4 linked regions of the Homo sapiens genome follow. The protein of the gene in region 4 purifies or fractionates together with the protein of the main gene of each other region. This does not show direct contact. Each region holds a gene or a part of one and is shown on either strand. Other genes may lie near its edges.

Region 1 (3,170 bases), on a different chromosome or scaffold from region 4:
CTGGCCAGTGGGACACCAAACTGCATCCTACATGGGCAATGGCAGGGTAAGAGCGAGGGGAGGCCCACTCTCCCACCCCGTCCCTGTCCTGGGGCCCCCTGCTCCAGGACGCCTTCCCAGGCTGCCTCAGTGCCCCCAAGCTTGCCCTGGCCCTGCCGTTGACTCAGCCCACAGCTGCTCAGAAGGACGTCACTGGTCATTCCAGAGCAAGGAACTCAGGCCTGGTGGGTGGGGGCTGGGGAGTCACCCATGGTATAGAGAGTGAAACCCAAGCTGCCCCACACCCCCAGAGAATCTCACTGCAGCCCTCACACACCTGTCGAGGGCGTACTGCCGGGCTGTGTGCAAGCAGAACTCCGAAGCTCCAAGCACGCCCCACGCGATGCCGTACCGGGCGTTGTTCAGGCAGCCGAAGGGACCCTGTAGGGTTGAGATGGCGCCTCAGGCCCACCCAAGAGACACCAAGAGGGCCTATGCAGAACCAACTCTGAAGCAGGGAAAGCCTCCTCCCCAGCCACCCCACGCAGGGGGACTCAGGTTGTGGTTCACATCACAGATGGCCCTGGCACTGAAGCTCGGTGCCTGCTCACTCGGTTTGCACACAGTCCCACCCAGCCTGGCATCTGGGTTCGATGCTCAGAGCCAGGAGGCTGACGGATGCCAGAAGATGCACTGTGAGTCAAATGACTGAGCTGGTTCAGGCCCATGTGTCCCGGGCAGAGCCGGGATGAGCGAGACGGTCACCAAATGGGGGCAGTTTTCAGCACGTCAGCGAGTCCGGCTGAGTAAGAATCACCACTGTGTGGGCTCCACAGGCACAGGGAGCCGCGTCCCCAGCACGGAGCCTGCCTGACAAAGCCGCATCCGCAGGTGACCCAACACCCATTCCCAAAGTGGCTGCCACTTACCCCCAGGCTGGATGCACCAGGGAGCACATTCTCCTCTGGCACCTCCACACCGTCCATGATGATCATGCCTGTGGCTGAGGCCCGCAGCGAGAACTTGCCCTGGATCCTGGGGGCCGAGAGACCCCGCATCCCCTTCTCCAGCAGGAAGCCCCGAATGCAGCCATCTTCACACCGAGCCCACACTACAAACAGATCGGCCATAGGCGAGTTCGTGATCCTGGGGATGGAACAGTCGGTGAGGGGTCTGACCAGTGCCCCTTTGCCCCTGTTCACCACCTGCCCACCACCCAGAACCCTTACCAGGTCTTGGTCCCATTGAGGGTGTAGCTCTTGTTGGATGAGTTGTAGTGGGCTCTGGTCTCCATGCTGCTGGGGTCACTTCCGCTGTTGGGCTCTGTGAGCCCGAAGCAGCCCAGGAGCTCCCCCTTGGCTGCAGGCACAAGACAAAGTCACAAGGCTGCCTGGTCCCTGATACATCCCCTTACTCAAAAATTATCCTCGTGGCGGGGTGCAGTGGCTCACGCCTGTCATCCCAGCACTTTAGGAGGCCAAGGCAGGTGGATCAATTGAGGTCAGGAGTTCCAGACCAGCCTGGCCAACATGGTGAAACCCCATCTCTACTTAAAAAAAAAAAAAAAAAAAAATAGCCAGATGTGGTGGTGGGTGCCTGTAATCCCAGCTACTCAGGAGACTGAGGCAGGAGAATCGCTTGAACCCGGGCAGGAGAGGTTGCAGTGAGCCAAGATCATGCCACTGCACTACAGCCTGGGCAACAGAGCAAGACTCCATCTCAAAAAAGAAAAAAAATCCAGCCTGACCAATATGGTGAAACCCCATCTCTACTAAAAATACAAAAAATTAGGCCAGTCGAGGTGGCTCACACATGTAATCTCAGCACTTTGGGAGGCCAAGGCAGATGGATCACTTGAGGTCTGGAGTTCGAGACCAGCCTGGCCAACATAGTGAAACACCATCTCTACTAAAAATACAAAAATTAGCCAGGCACGGGTAGCAAGCACCTGCAATCCCAGCTAATTGGGAGGCCGAGGCACAGGAATTGCTTGAACTGGGGAACCGCAGGTTGCAGTGAGCCAAGATTGTACCACTGCACTTCAGCCTGGGGGACGGAGCGGGACTTTGTCTCAAAAAAAGAAAAAAAAAATTACCCTCGCCCCTGAGTCAGACCTCATAACTAAGTTAGATCTGGCCCTGCTTTCAAGAGACAGGTTACCCCAAAGTCATGATCACAATGCCAAGATGGGGAGGGGGACCCAGGGAATCAGGAAGGAGTTGGCCAAACTGGAAGGGTGTGAGGAGTTAAGCAGGAGGAGGCTGTGGGGAAGAGCAGTGCTGGGAGAGGGAACAGATGTGTAAAGAACTGGTGGTACTTCTGGAGAATTTCAAGTAGCTAAGTCTGGCTGGGAGGATCACATGAGTGGCCAGAGATGAGGTGGAAAGGTCAGCAGAGGCCTGGTCACACAGGGCCTTGTGGGTTTTTTTTTTTTTTTGCGAATCTGATCTTATTTGTTACTCAAAAAATCTTATTTCTGACTGGATTCAGACTTAGAAGTGGAAGCTCGCAGAGAGGACAGTCTGCGTCTCTTCACGATTTGTCCCTGGTGCTTCTTAGCCTCCTTCATTCTCTTGGCCAAAAGTTTAGCATATTCTGCAGCCTCTTCTTTATTTTTCTTAATATGCGGCTGCTTCAGAGCAATACGCCGCTGTTTGTGCTGCAGGACATGTGGAGTGACAAGGCGCTGAATCTTGGGTGCTTTGGTCCTAGGTTTCTTACCTTCTTTGTTTAAGGGCTTTTTTACAACATACTGGCAGACATCATTTTCTTTAGAGAGACTGAAAAGTTTACGGATTCTGCTAGCTGTACTGGGCCCCAGGTGACGAGGCATCATAGTCTCAGTCAGTCCAGGAATACCCTTCTCTCCTTTTTTTTACAATAACCAAGTTGAGAACACTCAGATTGGCATCCACGATGCAACCATGAACTGATCTTCTCTTTCTTTCTCCAGTTCTCCTTGGTCTGTAATAGGAATGCCCCTTACTCAGTAGCAAGTGGACACGGCCATGGGTCAAGACACCCTGTTTCAAGGGGAAACCTTGTTTATTGTTCCCACCACTGATTCCGACCACGTAACCCTTCCATTCTTCACCCAGAGCGTCAACAGCAACTTCTGTGGCCATACGCTTCTCATAAAAAGTACAAAGTTTGCGTTCATCGTCCACTTCAATGAGTTTCTGGCAGCCAGT
Region 2 (3,500 bases), on a different chromosome or scaffold from region 4:
TTCGTAAACAGAACTGGAGAAAAATTTTAAAAAATCTGAGCACTAGAGATTAAATTTTAGGGATCAACATAATACTAAGAGATAAAATGTGAGAATGGACAGGTTTTCTACTCTGTTCTTGATAATGTGGAAAAAGTACAATGAGTAGCTTGTTTTGTTGCCATGTTTCTTAGAAAATAGGACCAAACACCATTGAGAAAAATTCAGCATCTGTTACAGGAAAATTAGATACTGGTCCTTAATAGCTGATAGTAGCAACTGTATCTTTATATGCTTTTTAATTTTTATTTTTATGGATATATAATAGTTGTAAATATTTACAGAGTACATGTGATATTTTGATTCAAGCACACAATGAGTAATGATCAAATCAGGGTAAATGGGATATCCATCACCTCGAACATTTATCATTTCCTTCTATTAGGAAACTTCTAATTCTATTCCTCTAGTTATTTTGAAATATACAATAAATTATTGTTAACTATAGTTGCCCTATTGTGCTACTAAACAGTAAATCTTATTCCTTCTCACTGTATTTTTGTACCCATTAACCAGCCTGTCGTTATCCACCCCTCCCCTCTCCCTATCCTAGCCTCTGGTAACCAACATTCTACTTCTATCTTCATGCGATCAACTGTATATGTTAAGCCCTGCTTCTACCCATGGGCTTCATCCAAAAATTCCTCTCACACTAGTGTGCCTTCCTAAACCATCTTTAAAACCATCATTGATTCAATAATTCATCAACTCTGGGAGCTGAAGAAAAATTCTTATACTATGAACTTAAAAAAAGATGATCTGGTAACAGCTTCTGAAAATGTGTGTGTGAGAAATAAGCTAGGAATAGTGAAATACAATTAGCATAGACAGGTTGGTAATTAGGGTCTTCATCATTAATGACAAAGAGTATGAGGAATAATACAAAGTTCAAAGAAAAAAAGAATGAGTAAGAAAACAAATTTTGCCAGTAGTTAAGTCACCCAGCAAAATGGCCCAAAGCACTAATAAGAAAACCAAGTCTTAACTAAATGATTTTATTCACTTCCTACGTCTCTGTCCTTACTCTAATCCTTATGAACCTGAATTAATCAAGTATATAATATTTTTAGATTATATTAATTAAAGGCTATGCTCTATCTCAAAAAAGCAAGACAGTACGAGAGATGTATTTTGTTTCCTTAATAAAGAAAATATCAACAAAACCAACCATATAAATTAAGCATAACAAATATTTAAAATAAAAATCAATAAGCAGTGTTATTTTATGTAAAGACTTAGCTATCACACACAAATACTTTTACACTCTCCACAGAACTATGATACATTACCGTGTTCTCTCTAGTTTGGTATAGAAGCAACCTTGAATAATTTTAACAGCTTTTAATATAGCTAGATATTCTTTGTGTGCTCTCCAACATCTATACCAGGCTTGAATCTTGCAGGCAGCTTTCACTTTACATAAATATTTCTTGGCTCTATATCTCCTCCACATAGCCTATTAAATACATAAATATAACAAGTATGCAATGAGTTGTCTCTTTTTTTTTGTAAATAAGACAAATCAGTATAAAGACAGTTAAAATAAGGTTAGTGCAGACAAAAATAAATTGCATAGTCATATCATGACTCTTTTAGACTTTGACATGTAATGAGTCTTCTGAGAACAGTGGTGCTTACTATAGTGAACACGTATTATGTGCTTTATCACACATACCTTATGGCTGGCTGCCAGCCCAGCCTAACAAAACCCTAACCAGTATTTATAAATTGTAAGACACACATGTCTGAAAAGCCCCACATTATGTAAATTATCCTCATCACCTCAATCCATTTGGAAGAAAAGAAAATGAACACATTGACCTACTGCAGGTTCTGGGGAGAAAGAGGAATTCTTCCCAATCCATATTCACTTTGGGTTCTGTGTTCAGCCTGCAGGAGAATCCTGAGAGCTCCTGTGATAGGACTGTCAGACTTTCTGATTTTGACAACCTTCTGGAAGACTAAAGGTTTACATGACAGCTACAACTTATTGAACTAAGCACTAAGAAGATTAGTCCTTAATAATCACATGGGTAGATAATACTATTATCTCTAATTTAGAGATGAGGAAATCAAGGCCTAGAGAAATTGAGTAACTTGTTGATGTCACACAGGTTAATAAGTGGCAGAGTTGTCTTACTTAATATTTATAAATATCTTATAAAATGGTTAAGATCTCTGTTTTATAAAAAAGGAAAAAAATCCAAAATTGAAATTAAGAAGGACTTGTTAGCATATAGCTGTTAAGTGACAGAGTCAAGATTTGAACCCAAGTCTATTTGACTCCAACATCCCTACAGGAAGAGGAATTAAAAGAAATTAAAGACTGTGTAAGCAAAAACTCAGTTGTATGTAAGAAAACCCAATTCCCCTTGGGAAGAGAAAGGGCTGGAGTCCTTTAAAATTAACTGTGTTTTTCTCTCTGTGGCTAGTGAGCCTTATCTCTCCCTTTCCCAGGCATTGTGAAGACTGTTTCTCTAGCTGTGCAGCTGCAAGGACACTAGACAGATAATCTCAAGTTGTAAAACATGTTGTTCCTTAAAAAGTAAGAAATAATGTAATGCATCTCTTACTTGAATAACTGTCTTTGTTTCTCTCTTCTGTAATACGCTTCCCCCTGCACAGATCTCCCCATGCCCCACGAAATGCTTAAAAGGTAGCTTGACTCTTTGTTCAGGGCTCAGTCCTCTTTGGATGTTAATCCGACTGGGTCGGTGCACATAAATAATTAAATAATTCCTCCTCAAATCCCTCGGTCTCTCTGATTCCTTAATTATCCCGCAGCACAACAAATACTATAGGCACAACGTATATTTAGATTAGGTTCTAAATTCAGTTGATAATGCAATAATTATATATGGCCAAAATTACTCTGAGATGACCTTAACTCATTCAGACTATATTGTATACGGTTTTTATGTAAATCTGCATACATTATTTATGTATATCCCCAATACCTGCCACCTCAGTCTTAATCAGTGGTAGAAGAATGGTCTCAGAACTGTTTGTTTCAATTGGCCATTTAACTGTAACAGTAAAAGACTGGTTAATGGTAACACTGCATCATAAAACCTTCAGGAGGAAAGGAGAATGTTTTGTGGACCATTTTGGTGTTTTTGTTTTTGTTTTGCTTGTGGCAGTTATAAGTTACTAGTTTTTAAAATCAGTACTTTTTAATGAAAACAAATTGACCGAAAATCTGTCACAGAATTTTGAGACCCATTAAAACAAAGTTTTAATGAGAAAATTATATATATGTATAGATATACGTGTGTGTATATATATATTTACAAATATATATATATATACACACACACACATCACACCTGAAGAACATCAAAATTTACAGACATTGACAAGAGAAGCCAACATAGCGTTAAGAGGGAAAGAAGACAGCTAAGAGATTATGGTATCAAGAAACCAAGGGTTGAGAGAAGAAACAAAGTGTGCTTAAATCCCAA
Region 3 (4,043 bases), on a different chromosome or scaffold from region 4:
GGACATGCTGCCTCCAGGGATAGGAAGGCAGTCATCGCTGGATGGTCTCCTTTTTGGAGACAAGACTTTCTCCGTCACCCAGGCTGAAGGGCAGTGGTGCGATCTCAACTCACTGCAACACCTGCCTTCCAGGCTCAAGTGATTCTCCTGCCTCAGCCTCCCGAGTAGCTGGGATTACAGGTGCCTGCTACCACACCTGGCTAATTTTTTTTTTTTTTTTTTTTTTGAGACAGAGTCTCGCTCTGTCACCAGGCTGGAATGCAGTGGTGCGATCTCGGCTCACTGCAAGTTCCGCCTCCTGGGTTCAAGCGATTCTCCTGCCTCAGCCTCCCGAGTAGCTGGGACTACAGGCGCACGCAAGCATGCCCAGCTAATTTTTGTATTTTTAGTAGAGACAGGGTTTCACCATGTTGGCCAGGATTGTCTCGAACTCCTCACCTCAGGTGATCCACCCACCTTGGCCTCCCGAAATGCTGGGATTACAGGTGTGCGCCACTGTGCCTGGCCAAATTATTATTACTATTTTTAGACACAGGGGCTTGCTCTGTCCCCCAGGCTGGAGTTCAGGAGAGTGACTACAACTCACTGCAGCTTCCAACTCCTGGGGTTAAGTGATTCTCCCACCTCAGCCTCCTGAGGTAAGACTACAGGTGGACGCCACCACACCCGGCTAATTTATTCATTTTTTTATAGAGATGAGGTCTCACTACGCTGCCAAGGCTGGTCTTGAACTCCTGGGCTCAAGTGATCATCCCGCCTTGGCCTCCCAGTGTTGGGATTATAGGTGTGAGCCACTGTGCTCGGCTTATTTTCCCTTTCTTATTTCTTCTTGGGCTGCCAGTAACTGAACACTGTCCACGTGCTGGTCGGGGTTAGCAGGGGTCAGCAGTCAAAGGTGAGCCAGGGTCAGAGGCCACGCCTCAGCGCGCAGCTCCCTTGCCCACCAGCTGCTGGGCCTTCAGCCAATCACTGAGCTCCTCTGAGCGTCAGTTTCCTCTTCTGTAAGGCAGAAGGAATGCCTCTTTGCTGCTCCTCACAGGGCTGGTTCTTGGAGATTCTCACTCACTTGTGTCTATCTCCCCTGCTAGGCCGGGCGTGCCTGTTCACCGTGACTACTCTGGTACTTCTCCCATGGTAGCTCCTCCAGGCATTTTTTAGAAATTGGGGTAAGGCTGAGCACAGTAGCTCACGCTTCTAATCCCAGCACTTTGGGAGGCCAAAGCAGGAGGATCACTTGAGCCTAGGAGTTTGAGTCCAGCCTGGGCAACATAAGGAGACCCTATCTCTACAAACAATACAAAAATTAGCCAGGTGCAGTGGTGCACACCTGTGGTCCCAGTTACTCGGGAGGTTGAGGTGGGAGGATTGCTTGAGTCTGGGAGGTCGAGGCTACAGTGAGCCATGACTGAGTCACTGCACTCCAGCCTGGATGACAGAGTGACACCCTGTCTCAAAAAAAAATTGGGGTGAAATTCACATAATGTACAATTAGCCATTTTTAAGTGAACAATTCAGTGTCATTTAGTACATCAGTGAGGTTGTATAACTACCACCTCCATCTAGTTCCAAAACATTTTCATCACCCCAAAAGGAAACCCTATATCCACAAAGCAATTACTCCCCATTCTCTCCTCCTCCAAGCCCCTGGCAACCACTGCTTTCTGTCTCCATGGATTTACCTATTCTGGACATTTCGTATAAATGGAATCATACACTGGGTAGCCTTTTGTGTCTGGCTTCTTTGCAATACTTGATGGAGGCTGCAAGCTTGGCGTTTTGGTTGTGCCTGACTCTAAAGCACCCTTCTTCCCACTCTGCATAAGGAGATGGCCCATCGTAGGTGAGTAAGCAACAAGATGTCCCAGGAGAAGGCTGGGCGCAGTGGCTCACGCTTGTCATCCCAGCACTTTAGGAAGCCGAGGCAGGTGGATCAGTTGAGATCAGGGGTTTGAGACCAGCCTGGCCAACATAGTGAAACCCCATCTCTACTAAAAATACAAAAATTAGCCGGGTGTGGTGGCATGTGCCTGAAATCCTAGCTACTAGGGAGGCTGAGGCAGGAGAATCACTTGAACCCGGGAGGCGGAGGTTGCAGTGAGCCAAGATCACACCACTGCACTCCAGCCTGGGTGACAGAGCGAGACGGAGTCTCAAAAACAAAAAAAAGACGTCCCAGGAGAGAGCCAGTGGTGAAGGGAGGAAAAGAAGTGTCTGGAGGCTGGGGGCGTACCTTGGCCATGACTTCATCATGACCCTCCACCATCTTCCGGAGCTTGATCAGATGCCACAGGTCCTGGACGGGCCGGGCAGTGCCCTGGCTGGCTTCCAGCAGCTGGGCAGTGGAGGGCAGGTCCTGCAGCAGGGCCAGCTGGTTCTCCAACTTGTCGAGGCGGCTCACCACGTGGTCGAAGACATTGCTGAGCCTCTTCATGGGGTTGAGGATAGGCTGGGCGTCTCCTTCCCTGGGCATGATGACCACCTGCGAGGTCTGCAGGAAGTCCTCATCGCCTGAGAGGACTTTCTTGAGCTCGGCCATGTGGATGTGCTCCAAGATGCCGTGCAGCAGGAGGTGCAGGGCCTTGAAGTTCAGCACCCCGCACTGTGGGATGGCGATGTTGGCCAGCTCGGTGAACGTGAGTGAGAAGCTCATCCTGCCAGGGTGGGTCAGTGGGGCTGGGGTTCCAGGTGTCCTCAAGGACAAGGGGTAGCTTTCAGTGGTTCCGAGAGCTACATGGACTGGTCCTCAGAGGCCTGGGGTGGTGGTGAGTCACAGCAGTCAGGGAGGAATGGCCTCTGTTCTGGCTGGAGCTCAGATCAGAGTCTCTGGTTGCCAGGACACCAAAGAATGTGATGAAACGGGCGCAATTCAAAGTCTGGAGTGGGGCAGGTGCTCCCTGGTAAGCCTCACCCAGAGTAGGTGCTCAGTTAATATTGGATGAATGTTTGAATAGCTGATGGCAGCCTCTTCATTCAAGCCCTCTGGTGATGTGAGACTGGTAACTTTTTCCTAGAAGCACATATGGAAGGGATGGAGAGGCAGCTCCCTCCTTGGAATTTTCTCGAATCCGGGCAGAAGACAGGTTTCTTGGAGTTAGGAAGACCCAGGTTTTACAAAGAGATAAGAATCTGAAGTACTGGCTGGGTGGGTGTGGGGGTTCAGGCCTGTAATCCCAGCACTTTGGGGAGGCAAAGGCGGGAGGACTGCTTGAAGCCAGGAGTTCGAGAGCAGCCTGGGCAACATAGTGAGACCCTGTTTCTACAAAAAAAAATTTGTAATTAGCTGGATGTGCTGGCGCACATCTGTAGTCCCAGCTACTCAGGAGGATGGGGTGGGAGGATTGCTTGAAGCCAGGAGTTTGAGGCTACAGTGAGCTATGATTGTGCCACTGCACTTAGCCTGGGCAACAGAGTGAGACCTTGCCTCAAAAAAAAAAAAAAAAAGAAAAGAAAAGAAAAAGAAAAGAGAAAAGGCCGGGCACAGTGGCTGACATATGTAATCCCAGCACTCTGGGAGGCCAAGGCGGGTGGACCACGGGGTCAGGAATTCAAGACTAGCCTGGCCAAGACGGTGAAACTCCGCCTCTACTAAAAATACAAAAATCAGCCAGGCGTGGTGGCACGTGCCTGTAATCCCAGCTACTCTGGAGGCTGAGGCAGAGAATTGCTTAAATCCGGGAGGTGGAGGTTTCAGTGAGCCAAGATCGTGCCACTGCACTCCAGCCTGGGCGACAGAGCGAGACTCCGTCTCAAAAGAAAAAAAAAAGAATCTGAAGAACTACATTCATTTCTGGACGCATCCAAAGGCCCCCCACAGTGTTCCATTTTCTCGTGTGTGTGTGTGTGTGTGTGTGTGTGTGTGTGTGTGTGTGTAGTGTGTGTGACAAAGTCTTTCTCTGTTACCCAGGCAGGAGTGCAGTGGCGCGATCTCCGCTCACTGCAACCTCCGCCTCCTGGGTTCAAGCGATTCTCCTGCCTCAGCCTCCTGAGTAGCTGGGATCACAGGCGCCTGCCACCACGCCCAGCTAATTTTTATATTTTTAGTG
Region 4 (3,500 bases):
TTTCAGGATTGAGATTTAATAAAAATTGTTACCACTTCATCATGGATGGACATTCTTAAGGTAAACTTCTTTTTTTTTTTTTTAACCGGCAGATGCTTAGTGGTAAAGAATATAAGGTTTTGTTCCAGTTTGGTGCCCAAAACATCAGCAGTTTTACATAACATTGCTTTGGCACCATCAGTGCAAATGTCAACCCAGTGAAAAGATCAAATAACACGTTAGCTTTATTATTAAAATTGTTTGACCTGTGAACTCCCTGAAACGGTCTCAGGGACCCCCCACCCCATAAGGTCTACAGACCACACTTGGAGAACTACTGCATTAGACCTTGCATCACAATCCTGGGAATTCAGGGAGGTAGCATGGCTTTCCACCACCAGCAAGTACTACACAGGGTAAGAATATAAAGAAACAGGCATCTCATTTATGTCTTAGAAGAGCAATTGAAGTAACTCCATGAAAGTAAATGGTTAATTTAAAGGCACAGCCACACAATGAGTTTCTGATTTGAGAAGACGAAGGGTCAAATGACCCCATTTCTGCCCCCTTCTTATGGCTGCTTTCATCATAACTTAGTTCTTCCCTCTCCTTCTTATCTCCCCTGACCTAGAAGAGTGTAGGGGACAGAGTTTGCAAGACTGTACTTAAGCCAAGGTAGTAAATTCAAATGCCTACAGGGGCTGGGCAATCTATATGAACGAAGTGCTTTACTTAAAAGAATGTGGGTCTAATGTCTCCAAATCTTAGTTTTCCAAAACCCAGGAAATTATTTTTATTTACATTTTAAAATGTTAACAAAAAGTTAAATTTTAAAACATTGCCTTGCCACAAACCACCTCCTTTTAACATCTTACCACATCTATATCTAAGAAAAGGAAAATATTTACTGGAGTACCTTAACCTTGCTAAGGAATGATGGAACAAGTCATTCCACATCACATTGGGAATAAGAATTTCAAAGATTGTTTGCATGAAGGGTACAGAACAAATTATCATAAAAATAACACTCATTTTAGGGAGAAAATGTGAGCGAGAAATAGTAGGTAATGAGAGTACCTACTCTTTGCTAGGCTGTGTTATATGTGATATATTATTTGTTTGCTTGTTTAATGTATGTCTTAGACATAGTCTTAGGGAAGGACTTTTGTTCACAATTGTACCTGCCCCTCACTTGCCTGGCACCTAGCATAGGAACATAGTACACACTCAATTAATATTTATAAAACGAATGAATGAATCTCATTATTTTTTCATTATACAGACAAGAAAACAGATTCAAAGAGAACATGCTATTTGTTCAATATAATTCAGTGAGTAAAAACAGAACTAGGAGGCTGGGCGTGATGGTCATGCCTGTAATCCCAGTGCTTTGGGAGGGCGAGGTAGGAGGGCTGCTTGAGGCTAGCAGTTTGAGACCAGCCTGGGCAACATACAAGACCTTATCTTTAAAAACAACAACAAAAAAAACAGAACTAGGAAATGAACCCAACTTTCTGTGTTCTTTCCATTAATTTTATCCTCTGAAATTAAAGTAAAACCCAAATATGTAACTCCTTTTTTCTGCTATTGTATAAGCTGTTCTCAAAGACTCTAGAATTTCTCTTTTCACGTTTTGTTACTCTGAGTTTAATGGCAACAAGGTTTTCCACCCTAGTTTCCAATAAAGCTTTAGGAATGTAATTGCCATGTAGAACACTCTATCCAACACAGGAAAGAAAGACTCCTAAAAATTCCTAATCTTCCAATTAGATTATTTTTACTTTGTGCTGAAGAAAACCTCGCCTGATCCTATGGATTTCCCCTAAATGCCATATATCAAAAACTACCGATAAAGGCAAACAAAAACCCCCAAGGCTAGGGAGGTTAAAATGAAACTGGAAACTGTACATATTGCTGGTGAATAAATTGGTACGATCCTTTTGGAAAAAATACATAGTAACATAAAATGAATCACAAAAATGTTCATACCATATAATCCAGCAGTCTCACTTCTGGGAATTTATCCTAGACAAGTTATTCAACAGGAGAAGAAAAAATTATATACAAATGCTCATTCCATCATTGTCTCTAACAGCAAAGAATACAATAAGAATTTTTTAAAAAAACAAAATACACAAGAAAGTGGCTTAATAAAAGATAGCACATGCTGAAAATAAATTATTCTTCAGCTGTTAAAAATAATCATGAAGACTGGGTAGTGATACGAAAAACTGCCATGGTATTAAATAAAAAGAATACAAAAGGATTTGTATACTATGATCACTAACTTTGCAGACAGCTATGTCTCCATGTATACAAGGGTTGAAAGGTAATACTCAGAAAAGAAAATGGCATCACAGGGTGGAATGATTTGAGTTGCTTATACTTATATTTTTTTCAGAATTTTCTTTACTGTTGTACTGTCTATTACGTATAATTTTTCAAGTCTTTCTGAAGTAAATTGGGATTTCTGAGCTTTTCTCTAATTCTCACTTGGAAAAAAAGCAGAAACACTGCTTCTTCCCATCTTGATTAACAGTGCTCTACTTAAAAAAGAAAACGAACATATTTCCAAATGTCCACATCTAAAGATGGAGAGCAAGAAAACAGAGCTGGATTCATTCAGGATGTTGCTGCTATCTGAAGGACTGATGTCGAATTCAGGAACCCAGTGAGGAGAGAAAGGAAGAGGGATCACCAGGGCCTTCTTCAGGGTGATGATGTGTTCCCAAGGCCACCTGGAGAGAGGCCTGGGGCAGCAAAAAATCAGCACACTTGCCTGCCTCACCAGGCTGCTGTCTGGTATCATCTCTTCCGTTCATTTCTGAGGTATTTTCTGAGGCCCTCACACTCTGAGGAAGCCCAGATGCCTGAGATGTCACAAAGCCATGCTGTACTTCAGAAGAGATGTCACAGAGAAGGACACCCCTCAGGAGTCATGGCCAAAGGTCATGTCCCATGTGCCTAGCTGGGAGGGACAGGTCCCCTAATGCCAAATATCTGGCTGCTACTCCACTTTGCAGACAGAAAACTCAGCTTTGTCTGCTCTCTCAGACCTCTGTCAACCTAGGAAAAGTGACACACACTGAACAAACACCACATGAGCTGTGTGTTTAAGTCATGTGGTTGCCTTTTGAAGGAGAGGGAGCTGGATAGAAAACTGGATTGAGCCAGACAACTACCCAGGGTACTCCCTCTACAACCAGATCAAGCCATTGATGAGAAGAATGTTAGGTGAACACAGAACCCAACGGGTAGTGCTGGGTCCACTCTGGGAGGCCTTCTGTTCAGCCGCGTGACCTGAGGGACAGAACGTAGCTCCTCTATAACCAAGGAACCTGGCAAACTATCCAAGAGGAGTGTCTTAGCACCCAGAACCCTACCTCAACCCCTTGCAGTGGTGGTCCTTATTGTAGGCCCCAGCTCTAATACCACTGATGGTTCCCTTTCATTCCCAAGGCCCTGCCCAGCTTACCTCCATTGACAGATCATCTTCCCAAGGTTAGGTTCCAGGTAACCCA

What was found. Proteins that work in one complex are often made in the same cells at the same time.
Region 1: the proteins of TRIM66 (region 4) and GCDH purify together in Homo sapiens (affinity purification with mass spectrometry, with the first as the bait; one large-scale study listed by BioGRID). This does not show direct contact.
Region 2: the proteins of TRIM66 (region 4) and ASPM purify together in Homo sapiens (affinity purification with mass spectrometry, with the first as the bait; one large-scale study listed by BioGRID). This does not show direct contact.
Region 3: the proteins of TRIM66 (region 4) and C16orf96 purify together in Homo sapiens (affinity purification with mass spectrometry, with the first as the bait; one large-scale study listed by BioGRID). This does not show direct contact.

The regions. Positions count from the first base shown.
Region 1 is NC_000019.10:12,894,160-12,897,329, reverse strand, and holds part of GCDH (glutaryl-CoA dehydrogenase, mitochondrial isoform a precursor), read right to left. Parts: exon of another isoform or gene 2,419-3,170; intron 1,339-2,418; coding exon 1,209-1,338; intron 1,126-1,208; coding exon 909-1,125; intron 421-908; coding exon 317-420; intron 28-316; coding exon 1-27. UniProt on the Homo sapiens protein: Catalyzes the oxidative decarboxylation of glutaryl-CoA to crotonyl-CoA and CO(2) in the degradative pathway of L-lysine, L-hydroxylysine, and L-tryptophan metabolism. It uses electron transfer flavoprotein as its electron acceptor. Isoform Short is inactive.
Region 2 is NC_000001.11:197,094,670-197,098,169, forward strand, and holds part of ASPM (abnormal spindle-like microcephaly-associated protein), read right to left. Parts: intron 1,496-3,500; coding exon 1,329-1,495; intron 1-1,328. UniProt on the Homo sapiens protein: Involved in mitotic spindle regulation and coordination of mitotic processes.
Region 3 is NC_000016.10:4,555,097-4,559,139, reverse strand, and holds the start of C16orf96 (uncharacterized protein C16orf96), read right to left. Parts: upstream 2,801-4,043; 5' UTR 2,651-2,800; coding exon 2,231-2,650; intron 1-2,230.
Region 4 is NC_000011.10:8,676,166-8,679,665, forward strand, and holds part of TRIM66 (tripartite motif-containing protein 66), read right to left. Parts: 5' UTR 3,455-3,500; intron 2,005-3,454; exon of another isoform or gene 1,969-2,004; intron 1-1,968. UniProt on the Homo sapiens protein: May function as transcription repressor; The repressive effects are mediated, at least in part, by recruitment of deacetylase activity. May play a role as negative regulator of postmeiotic genes acting through CBX3 complex formation and centromere association.